4 separate regions of the Homo sapiens genome follow, and regions 1, 2 and 3 are each linked to region 4. The links come from fine-mapping of genetic effects on gene expression. A gene starts in region 4. Each other region holds a variant in brackets. All regions are shown on one strand. Distances are between the middles of the regions. Region 1 overlaps LCT (lactase). Region 2 holds the start of LCT (lactase). Region 3 overlaps R3HDM1 (R3H domain containing 1). Region 4 holds the start of MCM6 (minichromosome maintenance complex component 6).

Evidence for each region. PIP is the estimated chance that this variant, and not a neighbour inherited with it, causes the effect.
Region 1: its variant is the best candidate, but not a certain one, in a credible set for the expression of MCM6 in thyroid (GTEx, PIP 0.86).
Region 2: its variant is the best candidate, but not a certain one, in a credible set for the expression of MCM6 in whole blood (TOPMed, PIP 0.69).
Region 3: its variant is the best candidate, but not a certain one, in a credible set for the expression of MCM6 in whole blood (TOPMed, PIP 0.64).

The regions. Positions count from the first base shown.
Region 1 is chr2:135,813,528-135,819,173 of GRCh38, reverse strand. It overlaps LCT (lactase), which reads left to right. Exons shown (of 17, transcript NM_002299.4): 6 at 1,113-1,833. Among named protein-coding and RNA genes, the nearest start is that of LCT-AS1, 3.8 kb to the left of the region's middle. RefSeq lists an enhancer at 585-1,784. The variant T/C (reference allele first, on the strand shown) is at 3,115.
Region 2 is chr2:135,833,282-135,838,927 of GRCh38, reverse strand. It overlaps LCT (lactase), which reads left to right and starts at 1,744. Exons shown (of 17, transcript NM_002299.4): 1 at 1,744-2,398. The coding sequence starts at 1,759. The variant C/A (reference allele first, on the strand shown) is at 2,738.
Region 3 is chr2:135,713,101-135,718,713 of GRCh38, reverse strand. It overlaps R3HDM1 (R3H domain containing 1), which reads right to left. Exons shown (of 27, transcript NM_001378107.1): 24 at 3,020-3,164. Among named protein-coding and RNA genes, the nearest start is that of UBXN4, 26 kb to the left of the region's middle. The variant G/A (reference allele first, on the strand shown) is at 2,666.
Region 4 is chr2:135,872,693-135,878,328 of GRCh38, reverse strand. MCM6 (minichromosome maintenance complex component 6) reads left to right here and starts at 1,886. Exons shown (of 17, transcript NM_005915.6): 1 at 1,886-2,070; 2 at 5,486-5,632. The coding sequence starts at 1,964. RefSeq lists enhancers at 1,612-1,671, 2,362-2,491, 2,261-2,796 and a silencer at 2,132-2,291.

The DNA.
Region 1 (5,646 bases), 59 kb after region 4:
CATATACATGCACATAAACATGTATGTGTATGAGGTTAAAAGCACAGAATCTGCTCCACCACCTGCAAGCTGTGTGCAAGGAGAAGTTACTCATAATCACCAGGAATCCAGGCTCCTTTGTTGTTGCTTTGTCACCTTTAACAAGGTTTCTACCTCATGGTTCAGGATGGATGCTTGAGCTCCTGCCATTATGTCAGAAATCCAAGCAGCATGAAGAAAGGAAGCAGTAGCCAGGACTGATATTCAACTGGTCCACATCAGTGTACTTCTGTACCAGCTGATAAATAGCTGCTGGCTCCCTGAAATCAGGAAGTTTTCCATTTCTTTTTCTTTTTTTAGACGGAGTTTCACTCTTGTTGCCCAGGCTGGAGTGCAATGGCGTGATCTCAGCTCACCACAACCTCTGCCTCCCGGGTTCAAGTGATTCTCCTGCTTCAGCCTCCTGAGTAGCTGGGATTACAGGCCCCCACCACCACGCCTGGCTAATTTTGTATTTTTAGTAGAGACGGGGTTTCCCCATGTTGGTCAGTCTGGTCTCGAACTTCTGACCTCGTGATCCACCTGCCTCGGCCTCCCAAAGTGCTGGGATTACAGGCATGAGCCACCACACCCAGCCCCCGTTTCTTTTAGTCTCAGTTTCCTCCTGTGTAGGATGAGGATAAATCATTGTAGTACCCATCTCATAAATTTGTTGGGAAAATTAAATGAGATAATACACATCCATTCTTATTACAGTGGCCAGCGCAGAATCAAGGCTCAATAAATTGGAGTCATTGTTATTATTAGCTATGTTTTACAAATAATGAATTATAAGAAGAATAAAGTATGGTACTAACACTGAAGACAATATTCAAGGGCAATCTAATACAGAGAACAGTAGCATTGTTCCTGTTTTAACCATGAAAGAGCAAGAATCACTCACCTCAGAAGGGGTAATAATAATAATTTTCCCATCTGCCAGTTACTTCCTGCCCATGGCTTTGCAGATATGACTTTTGACTCAGTGTTTCTGGAATCTTTTCTGATTAAACACAGTAGTCATCCGTAGGGGGCATTTGTAACTGCCAGCGTCATTCATTATTATGTCCCTTTTTGTCCCTTCAATCCTGCAGCATGTCTTGTTCTCTGACTGGCAGCCTGGCCCTTCAGCCTGACCAGCAGCAGGACCACGAGACCACGGACTCCTCTCCTGCCTCTGCCTATCAGAGAATCTGGGAAGCATTTGCCAATCAGTCCAGGGCGGAAAGGGATGCCTTCCTGCAGGATACTTTCCCTGAAGGCTTCCTCTGGGGTGCCTCCACAGGAGCCTTTAACGTGGAAGGAGGCTGGGCCGAGGGTGGGAGAGGGGTGAGCATCTGGGATCCACGCAGGCCCCTGAACACCACTGAGGGCCAAGCGACGCTGGAGGTGGCCAGCGACAGTTACCACAAGGTAGCCTCTGACGTCGCCCTGCTTTGCGGCCTCCGGGCTCAGGTGTACAAGTTCTCCATCTCCTGGTCCCGGATCTTCCCCATGGGGCACGGGAGCAGCCCCAGCCTCCCAGGCGTTGCCTACTACAACAAGCTGATTGACAGGCTACAGGATGCGGGCATCGAGCCCATGGCCACGCTGTTCCACTGGGACCTGCCTCAGGCCCTGCAGGATCATGGTGGATGGCAGAATGAGAGCGTGGTGGATGCCTTCCTGGACTATGCGGCCTTCTGCTTCTCCACATTTGGGGACCGTGTGAAGCTGTGGGTGACCTTCCATGAGCCGTGGGTGATGAGCTACGCAGGCTATGGCACCGGCCAGCACCCTCCCGGCATCTCTGACCCAGGAGTGGCCTCTTTTAAGGTACTTCCCAACCCTGCAGCTCCTACTAATTGGAGGAGAAAGGACATTGGCTGGAAGAAAGTCATTTTCTCTGTTTTCTTCCATCAGCAAGCCTTTACTTTTTGTTCTTTCTTTAAAGGAAATCGGGGAGGGAAGGAACCATAAATTGTTAATTAAATTGTTAATCACCTGGCCAGGTGCAGTGGCTCATGCCAGTAATCTCTTCACTGTGGGAGGCCAAGGCAGGCAGATTTCTTGAGTCCAGGAGTTCGAGACCAGACTGGGCAACATGGCGAAATCTTGTCTCTGCAAAAAAAATACAAAAATTAGCTGGGCATAGTGTTGCACGCCTGTGATCCCACCTACCCAGGAGACTGAGGTGGGAGGATCGCTTGAGCCTGGTATGCAGAGGCTGCAGTGAGCCAAGATTTTGCCACTGCACTCCAGCCTGGTCAACAGAGCAAGACCCTGTCTCAAAAAAAAAAAAAAATTGTTAATCACCTTATTTTGTCCAGACCCTCTACTGGTACTTTTAAAATATAATAGTTATTACATACTCAGAATAGCACTGATGGATGAGTGAGGCTCAGACAGGATAAACAATGTGGTCATGATGACATTGCTAGTGAGTAGCCAGGTGGAAGTCAGGATTTGAGTCCGAGTCTTCTTGACTCCAAATCAAGTTCCTCATGTCAGTGACAAGTGACAGAAAGCTCAACCCAAAGTGACTTAAGCAAGGAGAGAATTTACACATTCAGGAGGTTGAAAATTCTTCATTTAGCCTGATCAGGGTGGAATTTGATCAGAGCACAAGCGATGCCACCAGGACCCAGTTCCTCTCCTGTTCCCCTCGTTGGCTTTATTCTTGGGCTACTTTGCAGCCAGATGGCAGCAGCCCTGTTTCTGTTATTTCATGACCAGTAGGGAAAAAAGCTCGGCTCTTTTCTGTCCTTCCCAACAGAAGTGTCCCTGTGTCTCATGGTCTCTCAGTGGGTCGCATACCCACCCTGAACTCATTGCTGGGTCCTGGCCAGGAGGCTGTGACAACTGACTGGTGTGGGCCAAGGACCCATGCTTTACTCCTCAATACGCTCACTGAGAGCTGAGGAGGCAGAGAGGGAAGAGGCAAGGAGGCATTGGCTTTCCAGACGCCAGTCAGGGCATCGTTTCAACAAGAAGGGGATGTATACACTTGGCACAAAATTTTAAATGGCTATAGGTCTTTTCCATTATTTCCCTTTTTCTTCGGAATCTCCCAGAAAACCCACCAGCTTTCTTTGGCAGCGTTCTTCAGGATGGACA[T/C]GTTAGTCTGCCTTTTCCCTGTCACTGTTTGGGTTCCATTCTTAAAGATGAGTATTTCCGGCCGGGCATGGTGGCTCACGCCTGTAATCCCAGCACTTTGGGAGGCCAAGGCAGGCAGATCACCTGGGAGGTCAGGAGTTCAAGACCAGCCTGGCCAACATGGTGAAATCCTGTCTCTACTAAAATACAAAAATTAGCCAGATATGTTGGTGGGTGCCTGTAATCCCATCTACTTGGGAGGCTGAGGCAAGAGAATCACTTCATCCTGGGAGGCGGAGGTTGTAGTGAGCCGAGATTATGCCACTGCACTCCAGCCTGGGCAGCCTGGGTGACAAAGCGAGACTTTCATCTCAAAAATAATAATAATAATAATAATACTATTTCCTGTGTCCCGTGCTAGGTGTTAAAGAGGGGTCACAGCCATGCCCTGGACATGTTATAACCTTTTGGGGAAGATGACACTAACACACGTAGCAAAATTACAGAACTCTTCAAAAAGACCATTACTAGGGTGAGCTGGAACATCATGAATAAATAACTCAATGAAATGTCAAACATTGTAGCACGTAAGTCAGAGTTTCCATTCAGCTCTTGAGCAGCAAGTGACTGCACATATGGAGCCATTCCACCACCCACCTTCTGAAAATGGAAGGTTTGAAATCTTCTGTTTCACTCCTTGTTGTAAAACTTATCTAAACCTTTTCTTCTTAGGCTTTTCTTCCCCTTTGAACTGTGGCTCTTGAGATATCTTTACAGAGACTTTGATGAGAAAGTCCCCTTCACTCTTCTCCTTCAATTCTTCCCTTTATTTATTAGTTCAATGTTAGAATGCCATTGTCTTAGTGAGCTTGAGCTGCAATAACAAAACACCATAGACTGGTGGTTTAAACAACAGATATTTATTTCCCAGCATTCTGGAGCTGGGGAAGTCCAAGATCAAGGGACCAGCATGTTTGGGTTCTGGTGAGGGCTCTCTTCCTGGCCTGCAGGCAGCCACCTTCTTGCTGTCCTCATATAGGGGTGGTTGGAAGAACTCACTGGTATCTTTTCTTATAAGGACACTAATACCACCACCATGAGAGTCCCACCCTCACGACCTCCTCTAAATCTAATCACCCCTCAAAGGCCCTATCTCCAAATACCATCACATTGGGGATTAGGGCTTCAACATATGAATTTTGATGGGGGAACTAATTCAGTTCATAGCAACTATTAAGGAAAAAATTTAAAGAAAAAAATGTCTTGGGCCAGGCGCGGTGGCTCACACCTGTAATCTCAGCACTTTGGGAGGCCGAGGCGGGCGGATCACGAGATCAGGGGTTCGAGACCAGCCTGGCCAACATAGTGAAACCCTGTCTCTACTAAAAATACAAAAATTAGCCAGGCATGGTGGCGGGCACCTGTAGTCCCAGCTACTCTGGAGGATGAGGCAGGAAAATCGCTTGAACCTAGGAGGTAGAGGTTGTGGTGAGCCGAGATTGCGCCACTGCACTCCAGCCTGGTGACAGAGCGAGACTCCATCTCAAAAAAAAAAAAAAGGTATTTTATTATTTTAGAGTATTTCCTTCCAGTCTTGGCTTCTTTGCATTTATGATGTTGTCACAGGGCACCTCAGATTGTTGCTCACTGTTTACTTGATATCATGTCATTAGCACTTTTCCCTATTATTAAGCAGTTGTGATGACTGTTTTTGATGGTTGTCTAATATTCCACTGAGCTCCCTTCCTGACACTGGCTAATTTAGAAGAAAGACATCCTTGCTTTTGGGAAAGGAGCACAGTTTGCCATTCGAGTTTAGAACTCAACTAAAGACGAATATTTGGGATGTGAGAAGCAGCCAGGCGTTTTAGTGATTATGGCATATTTTGACATGAAATTCTTCAGAGGTAAGTGTCATCCTCTTCAGATGATAAAAAGGAAAAAGGAAAGCAAGCTAAGATTTAGCAAGCTCACTCCTGCTCTCTGAGTTTCTGCTCAATGCTTTATATACACGTATTTAATCATCCCAGATGGATCCATAATTACCCACTTCTTGCCAACAAGTAAGCTGAAGTTGAGAGAATAAATTGTCCAAGTTAACAAGTTAGTAACAGAGTCAAGATTTAAATCTAGGCTTGTTATATTTCAGACACCCTCCTTTTGCCCCTACTTCCCACAAAAAGCTGTTGCTGTTTGTAAGAGCATGAGTTAAGTCTACAAAGAAACTCCTAGTTTGGTTTTTCTTCCGAGATTCCATTAAATAGAAAGAAGAACAAATAAGCAAGAAAGAGCCCTCCTCTCCCTTGTGTGCTAATTAAAATAATCCTCCCCATGGACTAATTTCTCAAAAAGCACTTATTAAGGACAGAGGCAGAATAGCAGTGTGGGTAACAGTAACAGGCTTGGAATCAGACTGCCAGGGGCTTGTTCTCACTTTACTCCTGACTCTTGGCCTTGTGAAGTTACTACACAGCTCTGGATCTTGTTTTCACCATCTCTATAGTGGTGATAATAATTGTACCTGCCATATGAGGTTGTGGTGAGGATTACATG
Region 2 (5,646 bases), 39 kb after region 4:
TGTAAAAGTTTTATAATAGGCATTAGCAAGGCAGACGGATACAGGCACACATCTAACTCTATGTAGGATTTAACTTGGAAGACAATTTGCATTTCAATCAATCAAAAACCATTTTTTTTTTTGAGATGATCTCCCTGTGTTGCCCAGACTGGCCTCAAGCTCCTGGGCTTGAGCAGTCCTACAGTCTGAGCCTCCAAAAGTACTGGCAAAACAGGCGTGATTGACCATGCCCAGCCTGTATATAAGGATATTCATTTGCAGCATTGTTTGCAACACAAAAATGTAAAACCAACCGGTGTTTAATATGCAAGATGTTAATTTATGGTACATTCTTGCTGTGGAAAGCTATGCATCTGTTAGAGGTGGGTCTATATGTTCTGATACAGGCAGAACTCTAAGAGCTATTAAGTGAAGAAAAGGCTGAAAATACATATGGCATAATTCCATATATGTTAAATTGTTCTATATTTTAAATGTTATACACGTTTCCATTTGTATTTACGTAATAATAATGATCCCTGAGCTGTACTGTTGTATACATGCTACAAGAAAGACCCATTTAATCCCCACAGCCTATGATGAATTATCCACATTCTACAGGTGACAAAATAGAGGCACAAAGTTAAGTAATTTTTGTCAGGTGAGATTTAAACCCAGGCATTCTGACTCCTGTATAACCATTAAGATATGCAGAGAAAGAAAACTGGAAAGATACATATTGCTGAAGATACTTATTATAGGAAGAGGAGGGGGGAGGGTGAAGGAATTTGCAAGTTTTTCATAGATGTTTCCATATTGTTTGAATCTCTTACAAAATATGTTCAGCATATTTTTAAAGAGAAAATTTGGGGCAAAATACTTATTTTTGTATTATGTAAACAAATTTTAAAATAATGTGTGGCTGGGTGCGCTGGCTCACACCTGTAATCCCAACACTTTAGGAGGCTGAGGCAAGAGGATTGCTTGAGCCCAGGAGTTCAAGACCAGCCTGGGTGACATGGCAAAACTCCATCTCTACTAAAAATACAAAAAATTAGCCAGTCGTGGTGGCGCACACCTATGGTCCCACCTACCCAGGATGCTGAGATGGGAGGATCACTTGAGCCCAGGAAGTCAAGGCTGCAGGAAGCTGTGATCGCACCACTGCACTCCCACCTGGGCAACAGAGTGAGACCCGGTCACCAAAAAACAAAAAAAACAAAAAAAATTGGTAATCGTTTTCTTCAGACATTTTCCGGGTTCCTCTGCTTAACTTGTATAGGAAGTCTGAGGTTTTTGTGTTGGTCTTTACCTTTTTTTTTTTTTTTTTTTTTTAAGATGGAGTCTCATTCTGTTGCCCAGGCTGGAGTGCAGTGGCATGATCTTGGCTCCTGCAACCTCCGCCTCCTGGGTTCAAGTGATTCTCCTGCCTCAGCCTCCTGAGTAGCCGGGACTACAGGCGCATGCCACGATGCCTGGCTAATTTTTTGTATTTTTAGTAGAGATGGGGTTTCACCATGTTAGCTAGGACGGTCTCGATCTCCTGACCTCGTGATCCGCCCACCTCGGCCTCCCAAAGTGCTGGAATTACAGGTGTGAGCCACCACGCCCGGCCCTGATCTTTACATTTTTAAATATTGCATTAGTGAACCGTGTACTGATTTTGTGATCATAGATAACCCAGTTAAATATTAAGTCTTAATTATCACTTAGTATTTTACAACCTCAGTTGCAGTTATAAAGTAAGGGTTCCACATACCTCCTAACAGTTCCTAGAAAATGGAGCTGTCTTGGCATGTAGTCTTTATTGCCCTGCTAAGTTTTTCATGCTGGGGGTCAGACTGGGAGTCTGATAGAAATTTCATTTCCACCGCTGGTCCTCTAACCAATGACTTGCTGCACAACCTGAGTGGTCTCCTGGGAGACCAGAGTTCTAACTTTGTAGCAGGGGACAAAGACATGTATGTTTGTCACCAGCCACTGCCCACTTTCCTGCCAGAATACTTCAGCAGTCTCCATGCCAGTCAGATCACCCATTATAAGGTATTTCTGTCATGGGCACAGCTCCTCCCAGCAGGAAGCACCCAGAATCCAGACGAGAAAACAGTGCAGTGCTACCGGCGACTCCTCAAGGCCCTCAAGACTGCACGGCTTCAGCCCATGGTCATCCTGCACCACCAGACCCTCCCTGCCAGCACCCTCCGGAGAACCGAAGCCTTTGCTGACCTCTTCGCCGACTATGCCACATTCGCCTTCCACTCCTTCGGGGACCTAGTTGGGATCTGGTTCACCTTCAGTGACTTGGAGGAAGTGATCAAGGAGCTTCCCCACCAGGAATCAAGAGCGTCACAACTCCAGACCCTCAGTGATGCCCACAGAAAAGCCTATGAGATTTACCACGAAAGCTATGCTTTTCAGGGTGAGTACACATTGACCTGATGGTGACCCCTCGGCAACCTTCATCACACACCTTCCCCATCCTCCTTAGAGCAGATTCGACATTTCTCCCAACTCACCTTCAGCAGTCCTCTTATGTCTGTGCATAGGGAGAAATTAATATTGTAAATTGATTTCCCACTGGCGATAGGAAGGGGTAGCTAACATGGCAAAACACTCAGCATTTCCTTTGAAAAATATCTTTGAGGCTCACGCCTGTAATCCTAGCACTTTGGGAGGCCGAGGTGGGCGGATCACTTGAAGTCAGGAGTTCGAGACCAGCCTGGCCAATATGGCAAAACCCCGTCTCTACTAAAAATAC[C/A]AAAATTAGCCAGGGATGGTAGCAGGCGCCTGTGATCCCAGCTACTCGGGAGGCTTAGGCAGGAGAATTGCTTGAACCCAGGAGGCAGATGTTGCAGTGAGCCGAAATCATGCCACTGTACTACAGCCTGTGCGACAGAGCAAGACACAATCTCAAAAAAAAAAAATATGTATACATATATATATATATATATATATATATATATATATATATACACACATGTATTTTTGAAATACCCCTTGCCCAGTCTTGAGTTGTGCAAGCACTGATTGTCTTTCTGTCTTCCTTTCCGTCTATGTCCTGCTACCCTGACTTGGAGGCAAAGTTTCGTGGTTTCCTGTCCTTCCCCCTCGGCTCCCCTATACTTACATGTCTTAGTTGGAGCTTACATTGCAGCTTGGGAGACAGACAAATACAAGATGAAACAATTATATATCACAGGATGAGGAGAGCACAACTGTAACTGTTCACATTCCTGCCTCCTAGGGGACTTGAAGTTCTGATCTGTAGGCCTAGGCTGAACCAGGACATTTGTGATTATAATCAATTCCCTAAGTGTATGTTAGGTACACCAATTTTGAGAATCAATTTTGGATTATATATGCTTTCTTGTTTTTATTATATACCATATACATACATATTTGTATATATAGTACCTGATATATATATATATATATATATATATATATATATATATATATATATATACTTCTATGTTCTACTTTTTCATTTTAACATAGTTTATGACTATATTCTCATTTTATTAAAAACTTGAGCCAGGCATGGTGGCTCATGCCTATAATCCCAGCACGTTAGGAGGCCAAGGCAGGGGGATTGCTTGAGGCCAGGAGTTGGAGACCAGCCTGGGCAACATAGAGAGCCACTATCTCTAAAATAATATAATAATTTACTCCAGTGCTGGAATAGTATTGCTTAAAACAAAAGAAAAACTTGAAAGCATAACTTTCAATGGTCTTTTAGGTTCCCATTGTATAAATGGAGCATAAAGTTTAAGGTATTTTCCTTATTTTTGTATGTTTATTCTAATTTTCACTAGTTACAAGTTATGTTGCAATGACATTCCTATCTATAAACTATTTCCCACCTTCTGATAAATTCTTTCTGACAGAATCTTAGAATTGAAACTACTAGGTGAAAAGATCTGCATTCTTTAAGATTTTAAAGCATGGTACTAAATTATTTTCCAGAAAAGTTGTAATCATTTATACGAACAGTTATAAAATTACTCTCTGACCCCATTCTGTCAGTTTCAAATGCTATATTTTATTACTAATTTGACAGCTGAAAACAGCTTATTTTCATGTCTTGTTAATTTGCATGTATTTGATTATAGAGACGTTAAACATTTTTTTCTTCTTCTTTTTTTTTTTTTTTTTTTTTTTGAGATGGAGTCTCACTCTTTTGTCCAGGCTGGAGTGCAGTGGTGTGATCTCGGCTCACTGCAACCTCTGCCTCCCGAGTTCAAGCAATTCTCCTGCCTCAGCCTTCCCAGTAGCTGGGATTACAGGCACGCACCACCACATCTGGCTAATTTTTGTATTTTTAGTAGAGATGGGGTTTCACCGTGTTGGCCAGGCTGGACTCAAACTTCTGATCTCAGGTGATCCGCCCGCCTCGGACTCCCAAAATGCTGGGATTACAGGCGTGAGCCACCACGCCCGGCCTTAAACAAAAAAATAAAATAAGGCCAGGCGTGGTGGTTCACGCTTGTAATCCCAGCACTTTGGGAGGCTGAGGCAGGCGGGTCACAAGGTCAGAAGATCGAGACCATCCTGGCTAACACGGTGAAACCCCATCTCTACTAAAAATACAAAAAATTAGCGAGGCGTGGTAGCACGTGTCTGTAGTCCCAGCTACTCAGGAGGCTGAGGCAGGAGAATCGCTTGAACCTGGGAGGCGGAGGTTGCAGTGAGCCGAGACTGCGCCATTGCACTCCAGCCTGGGCGACAGAGCGAGACTCTGTCTCAAAAATAAATGAAAAATAAACTAGGACATCATAGCTGCCTTATTCACAATAGCCAAAAGGTGGAAGCAACCCAGATATCCACTGATGGATGAATGGATAAACGAGACGTGGCATAGACATAAAATGGAATATTACTCCACATTTATTAAAAAGGGAAGAAATCATCACATGCTACAACATGGATGAACCTTGAGGACATTATGCTATGTGAAATAAGCCAGACACAAAAAGACAAACGCTGTATGATTCCATGTATAGGAGGAAACTAGAGCAGTCGAATTCATGGAGAGAGGAAGGAGAATGGCAGAGGCCAGGGGCTGGGGTAGGGGAGAAATGGAGAGCTCTTTAATGGGAGTAGAATTTCTGTTCAGAAAAATGAAAAAGTTCTGGAGATTGGTTGCACAACAATGTGAATATACTTAATAATACTGAACTGTGCACTTAAAAATAGTTAAGATGGCCGGGCGCGGTGGCTCACGCCTGTAATCCCAACACTTTGGGAGGCCAAGGCGGGCAGATCATGAGGTCAGGAGATCGAGACCATCCTGGCTAACCCGGTGCAACTCCGTCTCTACCAAAAATGCAAAAAATTAGCCGGGCGTGGTGGCGGGCCCCTGTAGTCCCAGCTACTCGGGAGGCTGAGGCAGGAGAATGGCGTGAACGCGGGAGGCGGAGCTTTCAGTGAGCCGAGATGGCACGACTGCACTCCAGCCTGGGCGACGGAGCGAGACTCCGTCTCAAAAAAAAAAAAAAAAAAAAAAAGAAGTTTAGGAAGGAGTTCTCTCCTTGCCAACTCTCCAACTGCTCTGCATTTCATAGTCCTGATTTTCACAAAACACTCTCTAAAGGAACATTATTTTTTTAAGCCACCTTGTCTTCTAAAATCTTTCAGCTAGAGTAAAGTCATTTGGATGATTTCTTC
Region 3 (5,613 bases), 160 kb after region 4:
GCCAAGGAGTTCGAGACTAGCCTGGGCAACATGGTGAAACCCTGTCTCTACCGAAAATACAAAAATTAGCCAGGTGTGGTGGTGTGCCTGTAAGCCCAGTTACTCAGGAGGTTGAGGTGGGAGGATCATCTGAGCCCGGGGAGGTTAAGGCTGTAGCGAGCCACAAGTGCACCACTGCACTGCAGCCTGGGCGATGGAATAAGACAGTGTCTCAAAACAAACAACAACAAACAAACCAACATCAACAAAACCCACTCTGGTAATTCCATCACTTCTAACATTTTGGTGTCTATCTTTTCAGTCTTCTACATGTGTGGGCTGACTCATGCATATGTGTGTGTGTAAGTTTTTAAGGAAATTGAGATATAATTAACATACAATACAATCAATAAAATAAACATTCTAAGTGTTGAATCTGATGAATTCTAACAACTGTAAAAGTCCGTGTAACCATACCCTGTTCCCCCACCCCCTTAAAGAACATTTCCATCCCTGGAAGAGTTCCCTCCAGTCCCTTCCCAGTCAGTTCCACACCCCATCTCTACTACTATCTGATTTTTAACATAACAGATTAGTTTGTCTGCAGCTGGATTTCATATAATTAGAATCATATAGAATATATTCTCTTTTTGTCTTATTTTTTGGTTAACGTCGTGACCCGGAGAGTCATCATGTTGTTGTGTGTCAGTAGCTTGCTTTGTTCACTTTTATTGTTGCGTAGTACCCTTTTAAGGATATAGCACAACTTGTTTGGGTATCCAGTCTCCTGTTGATGGACATGTTGGTCATGTCCAGTTTGAGCTATTATAAAATAAGGTTGCTATAGATGTTCGTACACAAGACTATGTGAACATGTTTTCAATTCTCTTTCCCCCAGGAGTGGAATTGCTGGGTTATGTGGTAAATGATTAAAGTCTTAGGAAACTGCCATACCTTTTCCTAAAGCGGTTTCATCACTGTACACTCTTACCGCCAATGTGTGAGAATTTTAGTAGCTCTGTATCTTTACCAACATTATTTTTTAAATACTCACATGTGGATTTTGCATGTTGTGGGGGTTTGGTGTACTTATTATTTTATCACCCAGGTAATAAGCATAGTACCCAATAGGTATTTTTCAATCCTCACCCTTTCCCCTCAAGTAGACCCAAGTGTCTATTGTTCCCTTCTTTGTGTTCATCAATGTTTAGCTCCCACTTTCAAGGGAGAACATTCTTCTTTTTTTTTTTGAGATGCAGTGTCAATCTTGTTGCCCAGGCTGGAGTGCAGTGGTGCGATCTTGGCTCACTGCAACCTCTGCCTCCCGAGTTCAAGCAATTCTCCTGCCTTAGCCTCCCAAGTAGCTGTGATTATAGGCATGTGCCACTGTGCCCGGCTAATTTTTGTATTTTTAGTAGAGATGGGGTTTCACTATGTTGGCCAGGTTGGTCTCGAACTCCTGACCTCAAGTGATCTACCCACCTCAGCCTCCCGAAGTGCTGAGATTACAGGCGTGAGCCACCATGCCTGGCAAGTGAGAACATTCTTTACTAACATTTGGTGTTGTCCGTCTTTTTGATTATAGCCATTCTAATGGGTGTGAAGTGGTATTCTGGCTTGATATTCATTTCTATAATGACTGATGTTAAATATCTTTTCAAGGGCTTATTAGACATCTGCATACTACTTCAAAATGTCTGTGTAACTTGTTTTTCAAAATCACTTACCATATTGTGAATACTGCTCCCCGTGTTTGTTTGTTTTTTTGTTTGTTTTTTGTTTTGAGACGGAGCCTCTCTCTGTCGCCCAGGCTGGAGTGCAGTGGCACGATCTTGGCTCACTGCAGCCTCTGCCGCCCAGGTTCAAGTGATTCTCCTGCTTCAGCCTCCCGAGTAGCTGGGATTATAGGTGCCTGCCACCACGCCCAGCTTGTTTTTGTAGTTTTAGTAGAGACAGGGTTTCACTGTCTTGGCCAGGCTGGTCTTGAACTCCTAACCTTGTGATCCACCTGCCTGGGCCTCCCAAAGTGCTGGGATTACAGGTGTGAGCCACCGCACCTAGCCTGAATATTGCCCCCTTTTAGTGATTCTTTAGATAGCTACATAATATTCCTTGTATGAATATACCATAATTTAAGTATTCCTCATTGATGTACAGAGTTAGGTTGTTTGTAAATTTTTTTTGCTATAGGATAAACTCTTCTGTATATAAATCTTTGTGTGCATTATCCTTAGGATAAATTCTAGGAAATAAAATGGTTTCCATATTAGTTTATAATCATCTGCTTGCATATCTGCTCCCCAAAGTAGACTAAGGGTTAGTGAGGGTGAGGACTTCTCCTTATTCATCTTTATACACCAAGGGCATAGCCATTTCCTTAATAAATGATTGCTGAATAAATTTTTGGATAATCTCTTTTTTCTGTTTTATTTTTGAGACAAGAGTCTTGCTCTGCTGTCCATGCTGGAATGCAGTGGCATAATCAGAGCTCACTGCAGTCTTAAATTCCTGGGCTGAAGTGATCCTCCCGCTTCAGCCTCCTGAGTAGCTGTGACTACAGTCATGTGCCACCACTTCTGGCTGATTTTTGTAGTTTCTCTAGAGACAGGGTCTTGAGTGGCCTCAAGTGATCCTTCCGCATTGGCCTCCCAAAGTGCTGGGATTGCAGGCGTAAGCCACTGCGCCC[G/A]GCCTGGATAAACTTTTGATATATATTACTCTAAGTAGAAATTAAAATACCGAAAAAATGTAGAAAACTGTGTATTATTACTATAGAGGAATGGATTCTAAGAATAAGTTAAAGTGATTTTAATGTGATCATGTAATTACTAAACAGAAGTAATTACTGAATTAATAATTATTAATTAGCAATGATACATTAAGGTTAGGAGGGTATATGGTCACAAATAGACATGCCTGAGTGTAGGTGAAGATGCAGCTCTATGGAAAATAGAAAGGCAATATTACCAAGATAAATTACCAAGTGACTGGGAATGGATGTCTTAAATTCTCTGAAGTTGTGACTAGTTTCATGTGCACTTACCTTGCCCGGGGACAAAAGGTCTAGAAAATTGGGGCATGATGGAAAGTGGTGGTCCAGAGGGACGTACAGTTTTCAGGGTGGACAGCTGAGCTGGTGCTGGCGACTGAGCTGGTGAAATAATGGGGCTACTGAGTTGAGGGCTGTGCTGCAATTACAATACGTCAAGAAAATGGGTCAGCATTTTGGGCAGGCTTATTTTTTATTCTTCCTGATTACATATACGTACTTGTTAGAAAATAATTCAAACATTATAGAAGCATGTGATCTGCAACTCCCCAAAATAAACACTGGTAACAGATGGTTTCTTTTTTTTCTTTTTTTTTGAGACGGAGTCTCACTCTGTTGCCCAGGCTGGAGTGCAGTGGCGCAATCACAGCTCACTGCAAGCTCTGCCTCCCAGGTTCACGCCATTCTCCCGCCTCAGCCTCCTGAGCCTCCTGCCTCAGTCCCAGCCTGTAGCTGGGACTACAGGCACCCGCCACCATGCCCAGCTAATTTTTTGTATTTTTAGTAGAGATGAGGTTTCCCTGTGTTAGCCAGGATGTTCTCGATCTCCTGACCTTGTGATCCGCCTGGCTCAGCCTCCCTAAGTGCTGGAATTACAGGCGTGAGCCATCGCACCTGGCCAACAGATTGTTTCTATGCACATGCATTCATACATCCATTTTTCACAAAAATGGGAACAGACTATACATCCTACTTTCAAAACTTGCTTTTGTACCTTGGCAATAATATTGCCGATACTTTTGCATGAGAGAATACATACAGCGAACTCACTCTTTTTTCATATTAAATACTGTAACATTTCATATTTAAATAATTTCATTAGAGAATAGTTCCTAAGATTGTAAAAGAATTCCCAGATTTCCCAAATGATCTTAACTTTTATTACACTGCTTTCTCTGTGTGTGTGTGTGTGTGTGTGTGTGTATACACCCATATATATACATATATATCACTGTGTTTTTTGGAACTGTTTGAAAGTGAATTTCACATGATATTCCTTTAACCCAAAATAATTAGTGTCTATTTCCTAACAACAAGGACTTTTATAATATAATCAAAGTAGAATAAAAGCCAGAAAATTAACAATACAATAGTATTATCTAATCTACAGTTAATTTAAATTTTGCCAAGTGTCCCACTAATGTCCCTTATAGCAAAAGATAAGAAAAATGTTTCCCTTCAAGTCCAGAATCCAGACTAGAATCAAGGGCTGCATTTTGTTGTCATGGCTCTTTAATCTTCTTTAATCTGAAGCAGAACAGCACAGTCTCTTCTTTCTTTCATGACTTTGACATTTCTGAAGATTTGTTTTGGAAGATCAGTTATTTTGTAGACTGTCCCTCAATTTGGGTTTGTCTGCTGTCTCCTCATTAAAAAGTTCATGTTATATATTTGGGAAAGGAACACCAGAGAAGTAATGTGTCCTTCTCAATGGATCACATCAGAAGGAACCTGACGTCTATCTCTCATCACAGTATTGGTGATATTTACTTCGACTGCTTTGTTAACATGGTGCCTATCAGGTTTCTCCACTGTAAATTACAATTTTTTTCCTTTGTAGTTTTAAGTATCTTGTAGGGAGATACTTTAAAAAAAAATTATGCTTTTCCTCAGAATTTCACCCACTAGTTTTGTAGCCTCTAGTGGTGACTCTTGCCTGATGGTTTTCTTGGTGGTGATCTTTTAATTTCACGATTCTACATTTATCACTTTATATTACACTAAGGTAAGACAGTTTCATTTTCCATTTATTGATTTTTATCAGTATGGACTCATGAATTCTTATTTTATTCTATGGATGATCATTCATTTCTATCATTGTTTTATGCCCCAAACCTCCACTCCTGATCCTGTATTCTTCAAGACGTCCCTATTTTTCTTCCATCCCTTCCTTACTTTCTGGCATAGCCAAGATGGCCTACACCCATCTGGTACTTTCCCTGCACCAACTCTGGCAACAGTTATTTTTCTAAGGAGCCCTAGTTCCTTTTAATGGAGACTGGTTATTTACAAACTACCATTTCAATAGTAGGTTTATCTTATTCTTTTCAGTATTACACACTTAAGGGCATTTTCCTAAATGGCACAGTAATAATCAGTTACCCACTGGTGAATGTCAAGACTGTTCACAGTTTTTCAATATTACAACAGGAAAAAAGAAATATTGTACACATATTTTTGCACTTATTATTTAATTTTTACTGGGTAAAGTTCCAGAAGCATATCTGTGGATCAAATTCTACATTTTGAAAAATGTCTCCAAAGTGCATTCCAAAGAGCTGTACCAATTTACACTACCACAAAGAGAGTCCCAGAGCTTATAACTTGATCTTTGCCAAACTATTACTACGGCAGATTATTGGTCTTCCTGAATTTTCCCAATTATATAGATGAAAAGTAGTTTTATATTTTCATCTGTTTAATGGCCATTGGTAGTTTGTGAGCTGATCTGTAATAACCTTTGTTCCCCCTCCTTTTGTTTTTTTTGAGACAGGGTCTCACTCTGTTACCTAGGCTGGAGTACAGTAGTGTGATCACAGCTCACTGCAGCCTCTACCACTCAGGGTCAAGCAATCCTCCTGGTTCAG
Region 4 (5,636 bases):
AAAACAAAAAAAATCAGCCGGGCGTGGCGGTGTGCGCCTGTAGTCCCAGCTACTCAGGAGGCTGAGGCAGAAGAATTGCTTGAACCTGGGAGGCAGAGGCTGCAGTGATCCGAGATCCTGCCACTGCACTCCAGCCTAATGACAGAGCGAGACTCTGTCTCCAAAAAAAAAAGAAAGAAAGAAAGAAAGAAAAGAAAGAAAAAAAAGAAAAAGAAAAAATTTTTCAATAAGTTGGATTTGGTGGTGGCAGGAAATCCCAGCTACTCGGGAGGCGGATGCAGGCAGATTGCTGGAGACCAGGTGTTCAAGGTCAGCCTGCACAACATAGTAAGACCTCGTCTCAAAAAAAGAAAAGAAAGAAAAAATATTTTTAATATGCAACAAGCCTCAAAAAATGGAAGTGGTCCCCGTTTCTCTTAATGTCTTGGAGGCCAAAAAAAGGTACTGGTTGGTGAAATACACATATAGATATCATCAGTACCCAGATGTTAATTAACGCCAAGGGAGTGTAAAGGGTCGCCCAAGAGAGCGACTTTACGGGAAAAGAAGGCTCTGGAACCAGAACATTTAAAAGACTCACTGAAGGAGAGGCGCCTACAAAGGATGCTAATCAGGAATGGCCAAAGAGATGGCAGAAAAACCAAGTGAAATGGTTAGGGAAAGATGGGGGAAAAAAACATAAGGATAACTCAAGCCAATAGTGCATTTTAAGAAGGGTATTAAGGCCGGGCGCTGTGGCTCACGGCCGTAATCCCAGCGCTTTGGGAGGTCGAGGCAGACGGATCACCTGAGGTCAGGAGTTTGAGAGCAGCCTGGCCAACATGGCGAAAACCCTGTCTCTACTAAAAATACAAAAATTGGCTGGGCATGGTAGCGGGCGCCTACAATCCCAGCTATTCAGGAGGCTGAGGCAGGAGAATCCCCTGGACCCGGGAGCTGGAGGTTGCAGTGACCCGAGATCGCGCCACTGCTCTCGAGCCTGAGCGACTGGGTGAGACTTCATCTGAAAAAAAAAAGAAAAGAAAAAGAAAAAAAGATTAATCAAAGTGTCAAATATTTCTTTCTTTTTCTTTTTCTTTCTTTTTTTTTTTTTTTTTTTTGAGACGGAGTCACACTGTGTTGCCCAGGCTGGAGTGCAGTGACACGATCTCGGCCCACTGCAACCTCCTCCTCCCAGGTTCAAGCGATTCTCCTGCCTCGGCCACCCGAGTAGCTGGGATTACAGGCGTGCACCACCACGCCCGACTAATTTTTGTATTTTTAGGGGAGATGGGGTTTCTGCATGTTGGCCAGGGTGGTCTCGAACTCCTGACCTCAGGTGATCCACACGCCTCGGCCTCCCAAAGTGCTAGGATTACAGGTTGTGAGCCACCGCGCCCGGCCAATGTCAAATATTTCGCTGATTTTCCTCGGTCAGCACCACCACAATAATTGTGCCACCTTACCCATGCAAGGTTTAGACATCTCTTTGACTCTTTTACAGGGTTTTATACTGTGGTTTCCATTATTTCCTCTAACTAGACAGCAGAAGCGGCTTACTCATTTTTCTCTTCCATAGAGTCTTACTCCGATCGTTCAATTAATATCAGTGGAATGATTTAAAGAACATTTGAAAAACCACTCGGACAAAACCCTCAGATTCGAACTTGTTCCAGCAGCCAAAAATACCCGCGGGCCACGGCTACACTGCGCAGGCGCAAAGGCAGATGGGCTTTCTCCAGAAGGGCTTTGCATTTGGCGCGAAATCCCTTTCCGTGGGCTGGGGCTCTTGGAGAGGCGCCGTTCATTGGTCAGGTTTGGCGCGAAATCTCCAGCTCCTGTGTCACGATTGGTTCCGGCCGTGCAGGTCGGAAGAGGGGGCGGGGCGGAAGCGGCGGCGGCGCGCGCAAAGCTGCAGCGTCTGGAAAAAAGCGACTTGTGGCGGTCGAGCGTGGCGCAGGCGAATCCTCGGCACTAAGCAAATATGGACCTCGCGGCGGCAGCGGAGCCGGGCGCCGGCAGCCAGCACCTGGAGGTCCGCGACGAGGTGGCCGAGAAGTGCCAGAAACTGTTCCTGGACTTCTTGGAGGAGTAAGTCGGCGAGCGCCCCGGGCCTCGCCCGCCTCCGGAGCCTGCGGCGTCTGGGCCAGGCGGTGCCGTGTGGGCGGCGGGTGTTCCGGAACCTGGGGGTCGCGCGTCCGGGAAGCGCCTCCCCGCCCGCCCCCCAACTTTAGGCTCCGAGCCCGGCGGCCGCGAGGAGCCTGGGACAGGCTGGGTTTTTCTGGAGTAAAACCCATCTCGAGCCCTAAGACGCTCGTGCCCAGTGCTCAGCGCTTTGCTTCTGTCACTTGATGCTCACCACCCCGCGAGCCTGGTATTTGCACAGCCCTCGGTGACCGGCGCGGAAACCTGGGCTCGCTGAGTATAGTAACTGGGCCGCTGGGTGCGGCCAGGTCGAGTGGGAGGCCGAAGTGCCATTGAATCTCGTCGGTGCCCTGCTGGGCCACGCAGCCGGGAGCATGGTGCTGGGGGTTCGCAGGGCACGGGCCACCCTCGCCTCTTGTGCTGATGAAAGTTTCTGCGTCAACTGTGGTTTGAAAGCTGCTGGGGGGCGGAGCCCTGCCCTGCAGAGAGTAGCTCACCATATCCCTTCTTCTGGGTCCCTTGCTCCCCTTTCCCTCTGGCCTTCCTTTCCTTTCTCTACTCTTCTTTTTTTCTGTGCCTCTGGGCTCCTAGCTTCATAACCCCAACCTCCTCCCTGGCTTGCCTCACCCACCGGTTATTTTTCCTGGAGCAGATACACCACGGCCTCCAGGATGAAGGGTCAGCAGTTTGGAATGGCTTTTGAAGTTCTTTTTTAGTAAAATATACATAACAAAGTTGACCATTTTAGCCATTTTTAAGTGTAGAGTCCAGTGGCACTAAGTGCATTCACCTCGTTGTGCAGCCGTCACCACTCTCCCATCTCCAAACTTTTTTTTTTTTGAGGCGTAATTTAGCCCTTGTTGCCCAGGCCGGAGTGCAGTGTCACCATCTCAGCTCACCGCAACCTCCGTCTCCCGGGTTCAAGCTATTCTCCTGCCTCAGCCTCCCTACTAGCTGGAATTACAGGCATGCGCCACCACGCCCGGCTAATTTGGTATTTTAGTAGAGATGGGGTTTCTCCATGTTGGTCAGGCTGGTCTTGAACTCCCGACCTCAGGTGATCCCCCCGCCTGGGCTTCCCAAAGTGATTACAGGCGTGAGCCACCGTGTCCGGCTCCAAACTCTTTTCATCTTCCAAACTGACATTCTGTGCCCATTAAACACGAACTCTCCTCCGTTACCCTCTCCCTCAGCCACCGTCACCCACCACTCTGCTTCCTTTCATTATGAGTTTGACCACTCTAGGTACCTCATATAAGTGGAAGCGTGTAGTATTTGTCCTTTTGTGTCTGGCTTGTGTAACATAATGTCTACAAGGTTCCTCTGCGAGGTAGCATGTGTCAGAATTTCCTTACTTTTTAAGGCTAAATAACATTGTCTGTACACATTGAGTATCCCTTTTCTGAAACGCTTGGGACCAGAAGAGTTTGGGATCTTGGATTTTTTTTTCAGATTTGGAATGTTTACATTATACTTAACCAATTGCATCCCTAATTTGAAATGCTCCAGTGAAAATCATGTCAGCACTCAAAAAGTTTCAGATTTTGGACCATTTCATATTTTAAATTTTCAGATGAGGGCTGCTCAACCTGTATATATACTGCATTTTGCTTATCCATTCAGTGGACACAGGTTCATTCCACCTTTTGTCTATTGTGAATAATGAGGTTCATTCCACCTTTTGGCTATTGTGAATAATGCTGCCTTCTTAGGAAATTTTGGTATACTTAAAACCATAATTTAATTTCCATTTCACTACCTATGGCAATGTTATTGTCTGCCTGATAGTTCCTCCTTCAAAGCCCAGCTAAAAACTCACACCTTTGTGAAACCTTGTACACCTTTTTGAGAGGCACTAATCCTTTCTTCCTTAGGCTCCCAGGGTGCTGTTTGTTTTTCATTATCTCTGGCAGTGTAACACATTTACCTCCTAGCTACTTAGTCTGGAATTCAAATTCCATCCTCAACCCCACCTACCCACCACATCACATTACAAAGGTTTTTCAATAAACGTTTCATTTCAACAAATAATCTAAGTGCCTTGACTTTGCAGCTAGATGATAATGATGAGACAAATAATCTCTGTGCTTTGTTTAAAGAAATGCCAACTCCCTGTCACAAAATAAACTTTAATTCACCATTGCTTGTGGAATAAAGTTCAAATTCTTCATCACTCCTCTTTCCTGTTTGTCTTACAAAAACACCCCAGTCATCATCCACACTTCTCCCCTACCTTCTCTGACTTAATCACATTCTTGGAATCATCTAGTCAGTCACTTCACCACCTGTTTTTATTTGAAATTTTTAACTCTTTCAGAAGCTGAATTCCAACGCCACCTTTTATATGTATAACTTGTAGTTGTTTTTTTAGGCAGAATTAGTTTCTATTCCCCTAGCACATTTCTTGTTCTTCTCATTAACAGGAACATCTTTCTTGTCTGTCTTCATTGCTTACATGTCTAACTCCCTAGACGCAGACAAAGTGTTAGTTAACCCTAGGGCAGGAACAACACTGCCATTTTCAGCCTCAGGTACCTCTGTTATAGGGCTTTGCACGTAGTTGTTTAACAAATATTTTAAGGAGTCAGAACATGCTGTATATGGAGGAGAAATTGATTTTTTCTTAAGGCGAATCTGCATATTATGTTTGAAAGAACAGAAATAAATTTGTATGATATCCTGCTTGGGCTTTAGAAGCAAAAATACCAGCAGCTTTATTTAGTGTGCCTGTTTCAATTTTCCCGAAGTCTTGGGCTGTGAAACACCTCATTTCCATGTATTCTTATTTCTGTTCTGCTTCTTAAATCCCTGACTAATTTGTTAGTTTGCAAATTCCCTACAGAAATGGAATCATTGGGTTTGAGACTGAATTTCTTGATTTAACATTTTCCAATCTTAATTATACATGACAGTAGTAAAAGAAGAGTTAGTTGTTGGGTTTTTTTGTTAGTTAGCAGTTAAACCTCACAATCATGGTGGAAGGCAAGGAGGAGCAAGTCACTGATGTCTTACGTGGATGGCATCAGGCAAAGAGAGCTTGTGCAGAGGAACTCCTCTTTTTAAAACCATCAGATCTCGTGAGACTTACTATCAGAGAACAGCAGGGGAAAGACTTGTCCCCATGCTTCAATTAACTCCCACCAGGTGCCTCCCACAACATGTGGAAATTCAAGTCGAGATTTGGGTGGGGACACAGCCAAACCATATCAGAAGGGAGGAGTAACTTGCCCCAAGTTACAGAACTGCCAAACATGGGCCTGTCTGAGCCTAGTTGTTGGACTTTAACCAATGTTCTGAATTATCATTCAGGTTCTTTGTACTGCCTGTGTCCTTAATCTAGTTGACTCGAATGTACCTGCAGGTTTCAGAGCAGCGATGGAGAAATTAAATACTTGCAATTAGCAGAGGAACTGATTCGTCCTGAGAGAAACACATTGGTTGTGAGTTTTGTGGACCTGGAACAATTTAACCAGCAACTTTCCACCACCATTCAAGAGGAGTTCTATAGGTAT